Homo sapiens: one gene and its partner. The protein of the gene in region 1 interacts with the protein of each later gene in a biochemical or structural test. Each region holds a gene or a part of one and is shown on either strand. Other genes may lie near its edges.

Evidence for each region. Proteins that work in one complex are often made in the same cells at the same time.
Region 2: the proteins of HTRA3 (region 1) and FAM110D interact in a test that uses a peptide from one of them, tested with the Homo sapiens proteins (one large-scale study listed by IntAct).

What each region holds. Positions count from the first base shown.
Region 1 is NC_000004.12:8,300,754-8,304,175, reverse strand, and holds part of HTRA3 (serine protease HTRA3 isoform 1 precursor), read right to left. Parts: intron 1,714-3,422; coding exon 1,665-1,713; intron 1-1,664. UniProt on the Homo sapiens protein: Serine protease that cleaves beta-casein/CSN2 as well as several extracellular matrix (ECM) proteoglycans such as decorin/DCN, biglycan/BGN and fibronectin/FN1.
Region 2 is NC_000001.11:26,157,810-26,161,878, reverse strand, and holds the start of FAM110D (protein FAM110D), read right to left. Parts: upstream 2,801-4,069; 5' UTR 2,753-2,800; intron 668-2,752; 5' UTR 588-667; coding exon 1-587.

The DNA.
Region 1 (3,422 bases):
AGTCTGCCGTCAAGGCCCCTCCCCTGAGCCTTTGCCCAGCTCTTTGGTATGAAGCTGCCCCTCCCTCCCTCCAGCACCAGACCAGAAGAGGAGCCACCTCTGGGCCCCCATACTGCCCTGTCCCACCACTGGCCACTCTGTGTCCCCTACCAGATGTGCTTCTTAAGAGAAACGTGGTAGCAATAGCTGGTTAGAAGCGTGAAGAGAGGAGAGAGAGTGGGTAGACAGGTGGGAGGAGGGGCGGGAGGATGGATGGATGGATGGATGGATGGATGAATGAAGGAATGATGCTGGATGGGTGGATAGAAGGAGAAATGGACAGACAGGCAATGCTGAGTCATGGAATGGACAGACAATGCTGAGTCACGGAACGTACAGACAATGCTGAGTCACGGAACGGACAGACAATGCTGAGTCATGGAATGAACAGACAATGCTGAGTCATGGAACAGACAGACAGAAGACTGGACAGAGGTGGGATGGACAGACAGATAAAAGAGACAGAAAACAAAAGATAAATTGGCATACTGGACATTGATAATTTTTTTCAAATGTCACCCCTAGATTAGCAGAGTTGGTGAAACAGGAGGAATGACAGCTTTAGGGACTGTGTGCTTTGAGGAAATGGTCACTTGAGCATTCTCGAGTTCTTCCTAGGCTCCCGATGCAGTGACCTCTCCCTTCTTCAAACCTCGAAGCTCAAGTTTGTACTTCCAGCCTCCCTTCTATCCTGCCCCTGCTTCCTCTCCCCCAGCCCCTTCTTTCTTGCACTCATTCAGCATTTCCAGGCACCTGCTCTGCAGTGGACCTGCTTTTGGGGCAGAGTGGAGGAATAAGTAGGTCACAGTCCTTGCTCCCAAGGAGCTGACAGCCGAGGAGGCAGGATGGGGTGGGGCGGTCCCACCACAGGTGATTCCGACACAGCAGGATGAGTTCAAGGCTGGAGAGGGAGGCCAGGGCTCTGTGTGCTATGAGGAGGCACCTTCTGCCACTTGAGTGTCCTGGGAATGCAGAATGGTGTTCCCCCAAATTCGTGTACACCCAGAGCCTCAGAATGTGACCTTGTTTGGAAATAGGACCTTTATAGATGTCATTAGTTGAAGATCTTGAGAAGAGACCTTCTTGGTTTAGAGTGGGCCCTAACTCCAATGATGGATGTTTTCATAAGAGAAACGAGAGAGAGATGTGCACACAGATACTCAGAGAGAAAGAAGGTCAAGTGAAGACAGAGGTAGAGACTGCAGGGAGGCAGCCACAAGCCAAGGATGCCTGGAGCCAGCAGAAGCTGGAAGGGGCAAGGAAGTAGCTTTCCCTGGAGCCTCAGAGGCAGAGTGCAGCCCTGCCGACCCCTTGACTTCAGATCCCCGACCTCCAGAACTGAGAGGGAACACATTTCTGCTGTTTTAAGCCACCAGGCTTATAGTAATTTGTTATAGCAGCCATGGAAAGAGATAGCGTCCTGAAAGAGCAGAAGGAATCTATAAGGCAAAGAGGGAAAGGTCCACGCAAAAGGACTGGCCTGAGCAACGGTCAGAGGCCTGAGTGCATCGGCCCGTCTGGGCACCTGCAAGGAGCCGAACACAGCCAGCCAGGGTCTGGAGGGAGGGTCAGGGTGAGGGATGAGAGGAAGGGGTAGCAGGGGATGGCACTCTTCAGACACTCACCTTGGTGTGATCGTCCGCATCCGTATGCCGATGAAGCGCTTCTTCCAGTCTGGAAATGAAACACGGCGAGACTCCGTTAGGGCTGCTGTGAAAAGCCACCACGCTCCCTCAGGGGACAGGCAGAGGACAGAAGTTCCCCTGCAGGACCAGGAAGCAGCAGGTGTCATTCTGCTTGAGCTGGCCCAGTCCCCCTGCGGTCCAGCAAAGCTGCCCTCTCCTGACCATCATCATGGAGCTGAGGGGTATTCTAGCTCTAGTGTGGCTCGCCCCACAGGTGGCTTCATGTCCACCGCATCCTGCATCCAACCATGTGAGCTCCGACATCTGCTCTCCCAGCTGAGCTCCAACCCAACCCCAGTGGCCAGTGGGGCTGTCCTTTCTGGCTTCCATACTGCTGCTTCCCCAAATGTTCCCTGCTTGGAACTGAACTCATCACCTCCCACTGGTCTTCCTCAAAACGATACTCGCTGCTAATGTCCAGTGAGTACTAACCATGTGCCAGGCCCTGTGGCTGGGGCACTGCACACGCAACTCACTGAGATAGTGTCTCCATCCCCCAAGCTGCTCCAATCTGTGAGTTAGCAGGTGTCTCAGATCCAGAAATAAACAAGAGTCAATAAATTTAGAATTTTCATTTTATATAAGAGTTCTGACCACAATTAGAAATCAATAATAGGTATCCAGAAAATTCCCAAATTCTTGGAAATTAATAATACATTCTAAATTACTCATCTTCAAATAAGTAAAAAGAGAAATTAGAAATTATGTTCAGCTGAATAAAAATGAATGTATAATATATTAAAATTTGTAGGTTGTAGAGGTAGAGGGAAATTAATAGTACTAAAGTGTCTATATTAGAAAATAAGAAAAGTCTCAAATCAATAACCTCAGTTTCCGTCTTAAAAACTATAAAAAGACCAAATAAAACCTAGAATAACCAGAAGAAAAAAAATAATTAAAAGTCTGAATCAATAATAAAGTTGAGTGTGAATTAATAATAAAGCTGAGAGTGTGAATCAATAAAGCTGAGAGTGTGACTCAATAATAAAGCTGAGAGTGTGACTCAATAAAGCTGAGTGTGAGTCAATAATAAAGCTGATAGTGTGAATCAATAATAAACCTGATAGTGAAAATCAATAATAAAGCTGAGTGTGAATCAATAATAAAGCTGAGAGTGTGACTCAATAATAAAGATGAGTGTGAATCAATAATAAAGATGAGTGTGACTCAATAATAAAGATGAGTGTGAATCAATAAAGCTGAGTGTGAATCAATAATAAAGATGTCTGTGAATCAATAATAAAGCTGAGAGTGTGAATCAATAAAGATGAGTGTGAATAATAAAGTGTGAGTCAATAAAGAGTGTGAATCTAATAAGAGTGTGACTCAATAAAGCTGAGAGTGTGAATCAATAATAAAGATGGGTGTGAATCAATAATAAAGAGTGTGAATCGATAATAAAGCTGAGAGTGTGAATCAATAATAAAGATGAGTGTGAATCAATAAAGATGAGTGTGAATCAATAATAAAGATGAGTGTGACTCAATAATAAAGCTGAGTGTGAATCAATAATAAAGATGACTGGATCAATAATAAAGCTGAGAGTGTGAATCAATAATAAAGATGAGTGTGAATCAATAAAGGTAAGAGTGTGAGTCAGTAATAAAGTGTGAATCTAATAAGAGTGTGAATCAATAATAAAGCTGAGAGTGTGAATCAATAATAAAGATGAGTGTGAATCCATAATAAAGATGAGTG
Region 2 (4,069 bases), on another chromosome or scaffold:
TGCGGGCTGGCGTCGGCTCCCCAGCTCTGCGGGGAGAAGCGCTCTGCGCCCAGCACCTCCACCAGCGCGCGCTCCAGGCCGCAGTAGTTGAAGAAGCGCTCCTTCTCCGACAGGGGCAGCGAGCACGTGGGACACAGCGCCCGCTTTCCCGCCGCTTCCGGGGCATCCTGGGGCGCAGCCCAACCCCCTGAAGCCGCAGGTCGCTCTGTGGAGGCCGGGCTGCTCGGGGCAGCGTCCCGCGGGGCACCCAGAAAGAGGCGCCGCACCAGACCCTGGCCCTTGGCGTTCTCTTTGTTCACCGAAGCCTTGCAGTCCCGCTTCTGGCGGTAGAAGATGAGGGAATCAGGCCTCGGCAGCCGCCTGCCGCTTCCCCGGCGGACCGGCCTGGGCGTCCTGGGCGATGCAGGGGGCCCCAGCTCGTTGCAGGGGTGCGGCGTGAGCGGCCCAGGACTCCCACGCAGGGCTGGCTCCTGTCGCCTAGCTATCACCTGGTGCGTCTTGACATACTTGGCTTTGTCGGCTTCCAGCCTCTCCACGGCGCTGGGGGTCCGTCCTCTGGACGGGGTGGAGGGAGGGGCCAGGAGCATCTTAGCAGAGCTGGTCAGGACAGTGCCCCATAAGTAGCCAGCCACGGGGCCTAGAGCAATTGGCTTGGGCTCTCACTGACCTGCAGGGAGAGAGGAAGGTCAGGGGAAGGGTAGGAAATGCCCCTGGTCCTCTCCTGCCGGCATTCCTCAGTATAGGATCAGTCAGCCACCCTCTCCCATCCAGGTTAGCCGGTGCCACATCCAGGGAGCAGAGGCTCAGGCCATCCCCTTTCCCTGTCCTTCAGAGACATTGAGTGGGGTCTCTCTGGCCACTCAGAAACATATTCCCCTTTGAAGGTGCCCCAATCTGGCCACAGGGTCGTGCAAGCAGGCCTTAGCAAGCAGGACACTTGGAAAAGGAAACAGGGCTGGTCCCGGCCCAATTCCTGAAAGTGGCTTCAACCGGAAAAAATACCTCTTCCCAACCCAGCAGCTTTGAGCCCAAGACAAGAAGGCTCCCAGCCACAGGCTGGCTCCAGCAGGGCCCACCCTTCCCGCCCCCAAACACCGAGGTCGGGGATATAACCACAGGGTAGGAGCCTCCAGTAATTGCAGCCAACTGCCCTGCCCAGGCCCAGCAGGGCCATCGGGGCAGGAGAGGGAGGTGGTCCCCAGGCCCTATCAGCTACTGCCAGCTACTCTGCCCCTGCCAAGGGGATCGCAGAATGCCAAACTGTAAACATCACCTTGTTTAACCTTTGCATTTCCATTTCATGAAGAGGAAACTGGCTTGGAGAGGAGGGGGGCTTGCTCAGGTCCTATTGAGAGTTAGGAGCCAGGACTGGAACCCAGGTTTCTTTTTTTTTTTTCTTTAGACGGAGTCTTGCTTTGTCACCCAGGTTTCTTGCCTTGCAGTTCAGATTGGATCTCTCACTTGCCTATCAGAACTTCCCACTGAGGCCAGGCGCGATGGCTCATGCCTGTAATCCCAGCACTTTGGGAGGCCGAGGTGGGTGAATTACCTTAGGTGAGGAGTTCCAGACCAGCCTGGCCAACATGGCAAAACCCCATCTCTACTGAAAATACAAAAATTAGCCAGGCGGGGTGGCGCACACCTGTAATCCCAGCTACTTGGGAAGCTGAGGCAGGAGAATCGCTTGAAGCTGGGAGGCGGAGGTTGCAGTGAGCCGAGATCGCGCACCACTGCACTCCAGCCTGGGCAACAGAGCGAGACTCCGTCTCAAAAAAAAAAAAAGAAAAAAAAAAAGAACTCACTGATATTTTGCGTGTATTCCCGCTGCTATAAAACCAAGCAATTTCCGTTAGAAATGGGCCCCTTGCCTCACTAAAAAGTTCCTTCCACTAATTCTTCCTAATAACCTGCGCTCCCACTCCCAGAAATTTGCCCCCAGGGTCCTTGTCCCTTTTTTATCCTAAGACCTCATGACCCTTTTCCACCTCCCTTCTGCTGGGGCAAGGAGCGAGGAGGGGTTGTAAATCAAGAGCTGACAGTTCTCTTGGCAGTAACAGAATGGGCCACCCACATGGCCCTGCACACCCGACCCCACCCCTATCTTCCCCTACTCCCCCTGAGTCCTGGAGGCTGAGGGACCTTGGATCTGGGGACAACAAAGGAACAGAATTAGCCAGGGAAGTGGGGAAGGAGTCTGTGAGAGGCCTTGGGGCAGAGACCCTGCCAGGTCCAGCCCACCCCTGCACCCAGCATCTAGTGTGTAGTCAGTCTGCTCATAGGTAGTTGAGGCCTGGGAACCAAGGAGAGTCTGGCAGTGTCCCCCTCCCTGTCTCCCAGGGAGTCTCCTTGGCAGTGGGTCAGATTCCAAGGTCCCAGGAAGGCACTGCTTGTCTGACCCCATGGGTGCCCTCTGTCCTCTCCTCTTCTCCCCAGCCCTGAGCAGGGAGACTATAAAAAGTTCCTAATCACAAGGACCAAAATAGTCTGTCATCCACAGCCTCTTCCCTGCCTTCTGGGCTAGCCTGGAGGCCGGACCTCAGACATCCCGCCCTAGAAGCCTGGCAGGCAGCCTCGGGCCCTCCATTCCTTTGCCTGCCTTCTCCCAGTCCTGAAACTTGTGGTCTCAACTCTGCCCAAGGCTTCTGCTCTGGGCATGGGCCATCTTTTAGGCTCACTAGTTTGGCACCAGTCTCCCTGCCCTCAGGCCCCTGGGTTCCTTCTTACCCCAGCCCTGGGCTCAGGGTACACTCACCTCTGCATGGGAGGCCTAATTGCAGGGGTCCTTGGGCAGGTCCAGACTGAGGGCAGGAGTGGACAGCAAGGACTAGAAGTAACTTTGGTGGCAGCCAAACCTCACTCTCCACAGGAAAAGCAGAGAAAGCCTCCACCCCCCGCCCCCCAAATTAACCCTCGCCTTCCTGAGGCAGATCCTGGCCTCCATTAACTCTTTCCTGATCACAGTCCTGCGCTGTGGAGACCTGTGAACCAAGTCCAGCTCCTTTTATTTTACAGATGGTCAAACAGTCCCAGCCCGGTTAGGTGATTGGCTGTGGAAGCACTGTGAGCTTGGGCAGAGCCAGGACTCCAAACAAGGCCTCCTGATCCCCAGGCTTCCTCCAAAGGCCTGGGGTGGGGGCTCCGTATGTGGGATCAGCCCCCTCCCTGGGCTGTGGCAGATGCTCTGACAGTCTGAATGGGAAGGCAGAACAGGGTTCTAGTCAACTTGCTTTTTTCCCTCTGTAGCAGGCTGAGACCTGTCTTGGTCTGGGTGCTGGGTGGTGTCAAGCCTGCTTTCCCTGGGGGCGAGACCAGGAATCTGCAGCCTAAGGGTGGGGGCATTGGTGCTATAGATGTGCAGGTGAGCCTGTGGCGGCAAGTCTTGTCATGAAGGTGACCCTGGAGCCCACTGGAGCTGCCTCTGCCAAGGTCCTTTCATGGCAGATGGGATTGCCTGGGAAGACAGTGATGAGGGGCTGATTCCAGGGCCAAGCCCAGGTCCTTTGGCCCGCTTCCTTCTCTGCCCACACTTGGAGCCTCTTAGAGCTTCTTCCATCAGAGTTTCTTCTCTGACACCTTATGTCTCAAGGTGAAACCCTACCTCATAGGAGACACCTCCCCTCTCCCCAGCAGGCAAACTAAACTCTCCAGCCCAGACTAAGACCAGTGCTCAGGCCAAAGGTTCCTTTCCCCCCTTGGCTGGCCACCTTCCCCAAGTCCCTCCTCCTCCTTTCTAGCCCTCTTTCATGTTTGCAAAGCACATTCCCGTCTGTGCTCTCTGATCTCCTTTGACCGCCCCCAAACAAGGACCCTAGACAGGCGTCCAGCAGGAATGACCCCCCACTTAATGAGTAAGGAAACAGGAGCTGAGGGGGGAGAGAGATGCCCAAAGCCCAGCTCCAAATCCACATTTGGAACTGCATCCTCTGCCTGTCAAGTCAGTAGTGGGTCTGAAAACCCAAGGCCCATCTCCCGGTAAAAGGTTTTTATTACCTAAAGGGGGGATTTTGTTGGTGATAGTTCCATATTTTGTTGCTACAGCACTTTTCAAAATGCCATTAGCTGCTTTGTC